Regions from separate parts of the Homo sapiens genome. Here region 2 is linked to region 1. The links come from fine-mapping of genetic effects on gene expression. A gene starts in region 1. The other region holds a variant in brackets. All regions are shown on one strand. Distances are between the middles of the regions. Region 1 holds the start of SLC15A4 (solute carrier family 15 member 4). Region 2 overlaps SLC15A4 (solute carrier family 15 member 4).

Evidence for each region. PIP is the estimated chance that this variant, and not a neighbour inherited with it, causes the effect.
Region 2: its variant is fine-mapped to the expression of SLC15A4 in monocytes after LPS (Quach 2016, PIP 0.95).

Annotation. Positions count from the first base shown.
Region 1 is chr12:128,822,350-128,825,254 of GRCh38, reverse strand. It overlaps SLC15A4 (solute carrier family 15 member 4), which reads left to right and starts at 1,297. Exons shown (of 8, transcript NM_145648.4): 1 at 1,297-1,857. The coding sequence starts at 1,312. LOC124903083 (a long non-coding RNA gene) reads right to left here and starts at 1,311. Exons shown (of 2, transcript XR_007063602.1): 1 at 1-1,311. RefSeq lists an enhancer at 1,387-1,546.
Region 2 is chr12:128,792,894-128,795,798 of GRCh38, reverse strand. It overlaps SLC15A4 (solute carrier family 15 member 4), which reads left to right. Exons shown (of 8, transcript NM_145648.4): 8 at 1,443-2,605. The coding sequence ends at 1,603. Among named protein-coding and RNA genes, the nearest start is that of SLC15A4, 30 kb to the left of the region's middle. RefSeq lists an enhancer at 516-655. The variant T/C (reference allele first, on the strand shown) is at 1,480.

The sequences.
Region 1 (2,905 bases):
CCATCCCAGGCCGGGGTCTCAATTTCTGAAGCCATGCTGAGGGCCATTTTTGGGCGGCACTCTTTCACTCCACTATGTGCCAGGCGCTGTCCCAGAGGCAGGGGGCACAGTGAGGAACAAAACACAAGAGAATCCTGCCATCAGGAAGCTTACACCTGTTAACACATGCAGGTTGGGGAGATAAACGAATAAATTAAAAAATGTAACAGGTAATAAGGAGAAAAGAGTAACATGATGGAATGGGATACTCGGGCCTTGGACAGGCTAGTGAAAAAAATGTTTCTCTGAAGTCAACACTTCGGTGGAAGGTTGAAGGATGAGAAGCCAGCCATGCAACCATAGATGGTGTAGGGGCAGTCTCTGGGAAAGCCTGAAACAGGCTGGAGCTTGCCTTGTTCTAAGCCAGTGAGTCTCAATGGGGGCGTATTTGCCCCCAGGAGTCCTTCGGCAAAGTCTAGAAGACATTTTCGGTTGTTAACCTGAGGTGCTAGGGGGTGGAACTGGCCCCTAGTGGATAGCAGAGGCCAAAGCTGCTGCTGAACATCGTGCAACGCACAGGACAGTCCCGTCGCTCAAAGTGCCAACGATGCACGGGTTGAGAAACCGGGTCCTCTCCAGGACTGAAGCCCAGGGCAGGGAGCACGGGGGCAGCCTGAGCAAACCCGCCTGGAGAGCAGCCGCCGTCTCAGTGTGAGTTTTGGCTGCCTACTGGGCCCCACCGAAGCCCGAAGAGGGCCAGGCTCCGGCTTCTTTGTTTAAACTCCCTTAGTCCGACTGCCTGCAGTGGCTCATGCACGTAATTCCAACACTATGGGAGGCTGAGACGTGAGGAACGCTTGATGCCAGGAGTTCGAGACCAACCTGAGCAACAAAGCGAGACCCCATTTCAAAAAACTGTTTAAAAATTAGCCACAGGCAGCGGCGAGCGCCTGCGGTCCCAGCTACCCGGGAGGCTGAGGTGGGAGGGCCGCTTGATCCTGGGAAGCTGAGGCTGCAGTGAGGCGTAACCGCATGACTGCGCTCCAGCCTGGGCGAGAGAGGGAAACCCTGTCTCAAAAAGGCAAACAAAGGCTCTCGGCCGCCAAGCTGCGGAATCCCAAGCTCCCCAAGACACGCAGTGATCCAGAATACCGGCCACCTCCTCGCCTAGTGCCCGGGGCGGGGCCGGAAGTTCCGGCGAGTGGGGCGTTGAGCAGCGGCGAGCCCGCCCAATAGGGACATCTCAGGCCCGGCAGTCTCGCGAGAAGGGCGGCGGCCCTGGGTTCTGGGACAGGTGACCCGGCGGCGGGGCGAGGCAGCTGGCGGCGTCGCATGGAGGGCTCTGGGGGCGGTGCGGGCGAGCGGGCGCCGCTGCTGGGCGCGCGGCGGGCGGCGGCGGCCGCGGCGGCGGCTGGGGCGTTCGCGGGCCGGCGCGCGGCGTGCGGGGCCGTGCTGCTGACGGAGCTGCTGGAGCGCGCCGCTTTCTACGGCATCACGTCCAACCTGGTGCTATTCCTGAACGGGGCGCCGTTCTGCTGGGAGGGCGCGCAGGCCAGCGAGGCGCTGCTGCTCTTCATGGGCCTCACCTACCTGGGCTCGCCGTTCGGAGGCTGGCTGGCCGACGCGCGGCTGGGCCGGGCGCGCGCCATCCTGCTGAGCCTGGCGCTCTACCTGCTGGGCATGCTGGCCTTCCCGCTGCTGGCCGCGCCCGCCACGCGAGCCGCGCTCTGCGGTTCCGCGCGCCTGCTCAACTGCACGGCGCCTGGTCCCGACGCCGCCGCCCGCTGCTGCTCACCGGCCACCTTCGCGGGGCTGGTGCTGGTGGGCCTGGGCGTGGCCACCGTCAAGGCCAACATCACGCCCTTCGGCGCCGACCAGGTGAGCCGCGCCCCCGCGCGCTGTCCCTGTCCCTGTCCAGCCCCTGCCCAGCCCCAGCCTCTTCCCCTGCCCCAGTCCCTGCCTCTGACCGCGGAGGGAGCCCCTTGCCCCGGGGGGCTTCTGTCTAGTGCCGAGGAATCCCGCCAGCAGGTGGGCCAAGACTGGAGGTACCGGTGTGATGGGTGCTGGAAGGGGTTTGCCTGGGGCGGGGTGAGGTCTACACACACAGTGATGGCCACAGTGGCTTTAAAGAAAAGAGAGGCCGGGCGCGGTGGCTCACGCCTGTAATTCCAGCACTTTGGGAGGCCGAGGCGGGAGGATCTCTTGAGCCCAGGACTTTGAGACCAGGTTGGGCAACACAGTGAGACCTCATCTCTACCAAAATTTAAAAATTTGCCCTCCGTGGAGGCGCACACCTGTAGTCCTAGCAGAGAAAGGAGGATTCCTTGAGCCTACGAGTTTCGGAGGCTGCAGTGAGCTAGGGTCACACCAGTGCACTCTAGCTTGGGTAACAGAGTGAGACCCCACCTCAAAAAAATAAATAAATAAAATTTAAAAAATACGCTGAGCGCAGTGGCTCACGCCTGTAATCCCAACACTTTGGGAGGCCGAGGTGGGTGGATCACCTAAGGTCAGGAGTTCGAGACCAGCCTGACCAGCCTGGCTAAAAATACAAAAATTAGCCGAGCGTGGTGGCGGGCACCTGTTCTCTCAGCTAGTCGGGAGGCTGAGGCAGGAGAATCGCTTGCACCCGGGAGGCAGAGGTGCGATGAGCCGAGATCGCGCCACTCCACTCCTCCAGCCTGAGCGACAGAGCGAGACTCTGTCTCCAAATAAAAATAAATAAATAAATAAAAAATAAATGAACGGGACCCTTCTATGTTCAGGCCCTGTAAGTTCAGACCAGAAGGCTAGGAAAGAGCAGTTGTTTGAGGAGCTTTCCAGACATGGGGATTCGCAGGTGCAGGGCCCTGGGCCAGGAAGCTGAGGGAAGGGGAAGCCCCCGTTGTTGCCTTAGCTTCCTTTACAAAGAAGTGGGAAAACACTC
Region 2 (2,905 bases), 29 kb after region 1:
GCACAGGGCGACACTCGGCTTGGCCTGGATGACCAGTCATGACGAGCTAAAAGTCCTGCCGTTTTCTGCTCACACGTCGTTCCCACGTCTGCACATTGAGTGGTGATGTTAGCCGGTGCTGGCTGAACTCTGTTCTCTGGCGGAGAGACTGCCAGTTTGCAGAGTGGACAGTTCCAGACCTCTGTGAAAGGGGGATCATGACCGTGGCACGTGTTGCTAGCACCCTCACCGCGTCCAGACTCCCTCTTGAGTGCCTTTCTGAAATGCTGCTCCTCGGCGCTTTCCCCATTTTACAGATGAGGAAACTGAGCACAGAGGTCTCAGAGGCCGGATTCAAGCCTTATAGCTTGAGCTGCATGGCCCATGATCTTATCCTCTGTGCTGTCCAGCCTGCTTGGGATGCAGACGTTGCGTGTAAAGTGCCTCCATAGTGCCCGGGACTCGGTTGGGTATTCAGTGTATGCTAACTCTTTGTATTAAAGTATGCAGAGGTATCTGCTTGTGTCAGTTTGAGGATGCTAAAACCTGAACATGTTTAAGACACATTCAGAAACCAGCTCATCTCTTCCTTTGATACATTGCCCAGCTGTCGGCCCTGGTGTGTTGGGTGTGTCAGTGACCCATGCAGTGAATCCAGAATTCACGATGTTCAGGCTGTGTCATAGTGCAATCTGTGATGCTAAAAAGTGCACAGGTTCCATAGCCAAGTTACAAAGACGCTCACCTCAGGATTCGATAAAGAGATAGTCAGGCGCTCTTTTGTTATCTTCGCATCTGCCTTCCTCAACAATGCAGTTCCAGGCCAATCATAACTATAAATGGAGGAAGTTCCCCTGAAGTAGTTGAGGAGAGGAACACTGCCTCAGAAAAGGCAGGAAGGAAATAACACCAGACCGGCTAACACTTGTTTCTGGTGGCAAGAACACAGGAAGGTAATTTTTTACTTTGCCCAGCTGTTCTGGTGTGGGGGGATTAGCAGTCACAGGAGGCTGGGTTGGCAGGTTTCCCCTTGCTCCTGATTTGCAGCCTTGTCGTGCGGCCTTAGGCACACTCTCCGTCGACACTGTCCCCTTCACCACCGCATGTGTGTCTGCAGGCCACGCAGGGATTTTCCTGAGTACTGGGGAGCTACCTTTTCTAGTTTCCTCAGGGAACCTCCTCCTTTTACCTTACAGAAGAGAGGGATGGGCTGCTAGGGGCAGGTGGGGGGCTGCAGACAGCCCACCTCCAGAGCCCCCGGTGGCGATGTATCTGACTTCAGGGAGCTTCTTCAGTGGTTTTGAAAGCAAGATGCTTGTGCATTTTGGACTACAGAGACAACATTTGTTACTTTTTTTATGACTCCAGTTAAACCTTAGTGGGAACCAGATTAAATAGTAAAGTCTTGAAAAAATACCTGTAGCAGCGCAGCTTACCTGCCGCTTTCCTTTTGTTTTCTCCAGGTAATATTAACGGCTGCTATTTGAACTATTACTTTTT[T/C]CTTCTGGCTGCTATTCAAGGAGCTACCCTCCTGCTTTTCCTCATTATTTCTGTGAAATATGACCATCATCGAGACCATCAGCGATCAAGAGCCAATGGCGTGCCCACCAGCAGGAGGGCCTGACCTTCCTGAGGCCATGTGCGGTTTCTGAGGCTGACATGTCAGTAACTGACTGGGGTGCACTGAGAACAGGCAAGACTTTAAATTCCCATAAAATGTCTGACTTCACTGAAACTTGCATGTTGCCTGGATTGATTTCTTCTTTCCCTCTATCCAAAGGAGCTTGGTAAGTGCCTTACTGCAGCGTGTCTCCTGGCACGCTGGGCCCTCCGGGAGGAGAGCTGCAGATTTCGAGTATGTCGCTTGTCATTCAAGGTCTCTGTGAATCCTCTAGCTGGGTTCCCTTTTTTACAGAAACTCACAAATGGAGATTGCAAAGTCTTGGGGAACTCCACGTGTTAGTTGGCATCCCAGTTTCTTAAACAAATAGTATCACCTGCTTCCCATAGCCATATCTCACTGTAAAAAAAAAATTAATAAACTGTTACTTATATTTAAGAAAGTGAGGATTTTTTTTTTTTTAAAGATAAAAGCATGGTCAGATGCTGCAAGGATTTTACATAAATGCCATATTTATGGTTTCCTTCCTGAGAACAATCTTGCTCTTGCCATGTTCTTTGATTTAGGCTGGTAGTAAACACATTTCATCTGCTGCTTCAAAAAGTACTTACTTTTTAAACCATCAACATTACTTTTCTTTCTTAAGGCAAGGCATGCATAAGAGTCATTTGAGACCATGTGTCCCATCTCAAGCCACAGAGCAACTCACGGGGTACTTCACACCTTACCTAGTCAGAGTGCTTATATATAGCTTTATTTTGGTACGATTGAGACTAAAGACTGATCATGGTTGTATGTAAGGAAAACATTCTTTTGAACAGAAATAGTGTAATTAAAAATAATTGAAAGTGTTAAATGTGAACTTGAGCTGTTTGACCAGTCACATTTTTGTATTGTTACTGTACGTGTATCTGGGGCTTCTCCGTTTGTTAATACTTTTTCTGTATTTGTTGCTGTATTTTTGGCATAACTTTATTATAAAAAGCATCTCAAATGCGAAATCCATGAGCCGGTTCTTTGCGTGGTTTGTCCTCAGTCGCTGCTGGTGTGGCGTGTGGATTCCTCCCCTGTCGTGTAGAAGGCGCAGAGCTTCCCGAGTCGGGAACTGAGGGGAGGGTGGGGAAGTGCGCTCCTGCACAGCCCTCGGATGCTCCGGCGCGTCTCCTGATTCTGCAGCCTCCTCTGCATGGAAGGGTAGTTTCAGCATTTGGAGAAGACAAAAAACAAACCAAAAAACCCTCACGTTGTTGTTCGTTGTGTAATAGAAAGTATAGAAAAACTATAGAAAAATACAAGACATTTCAA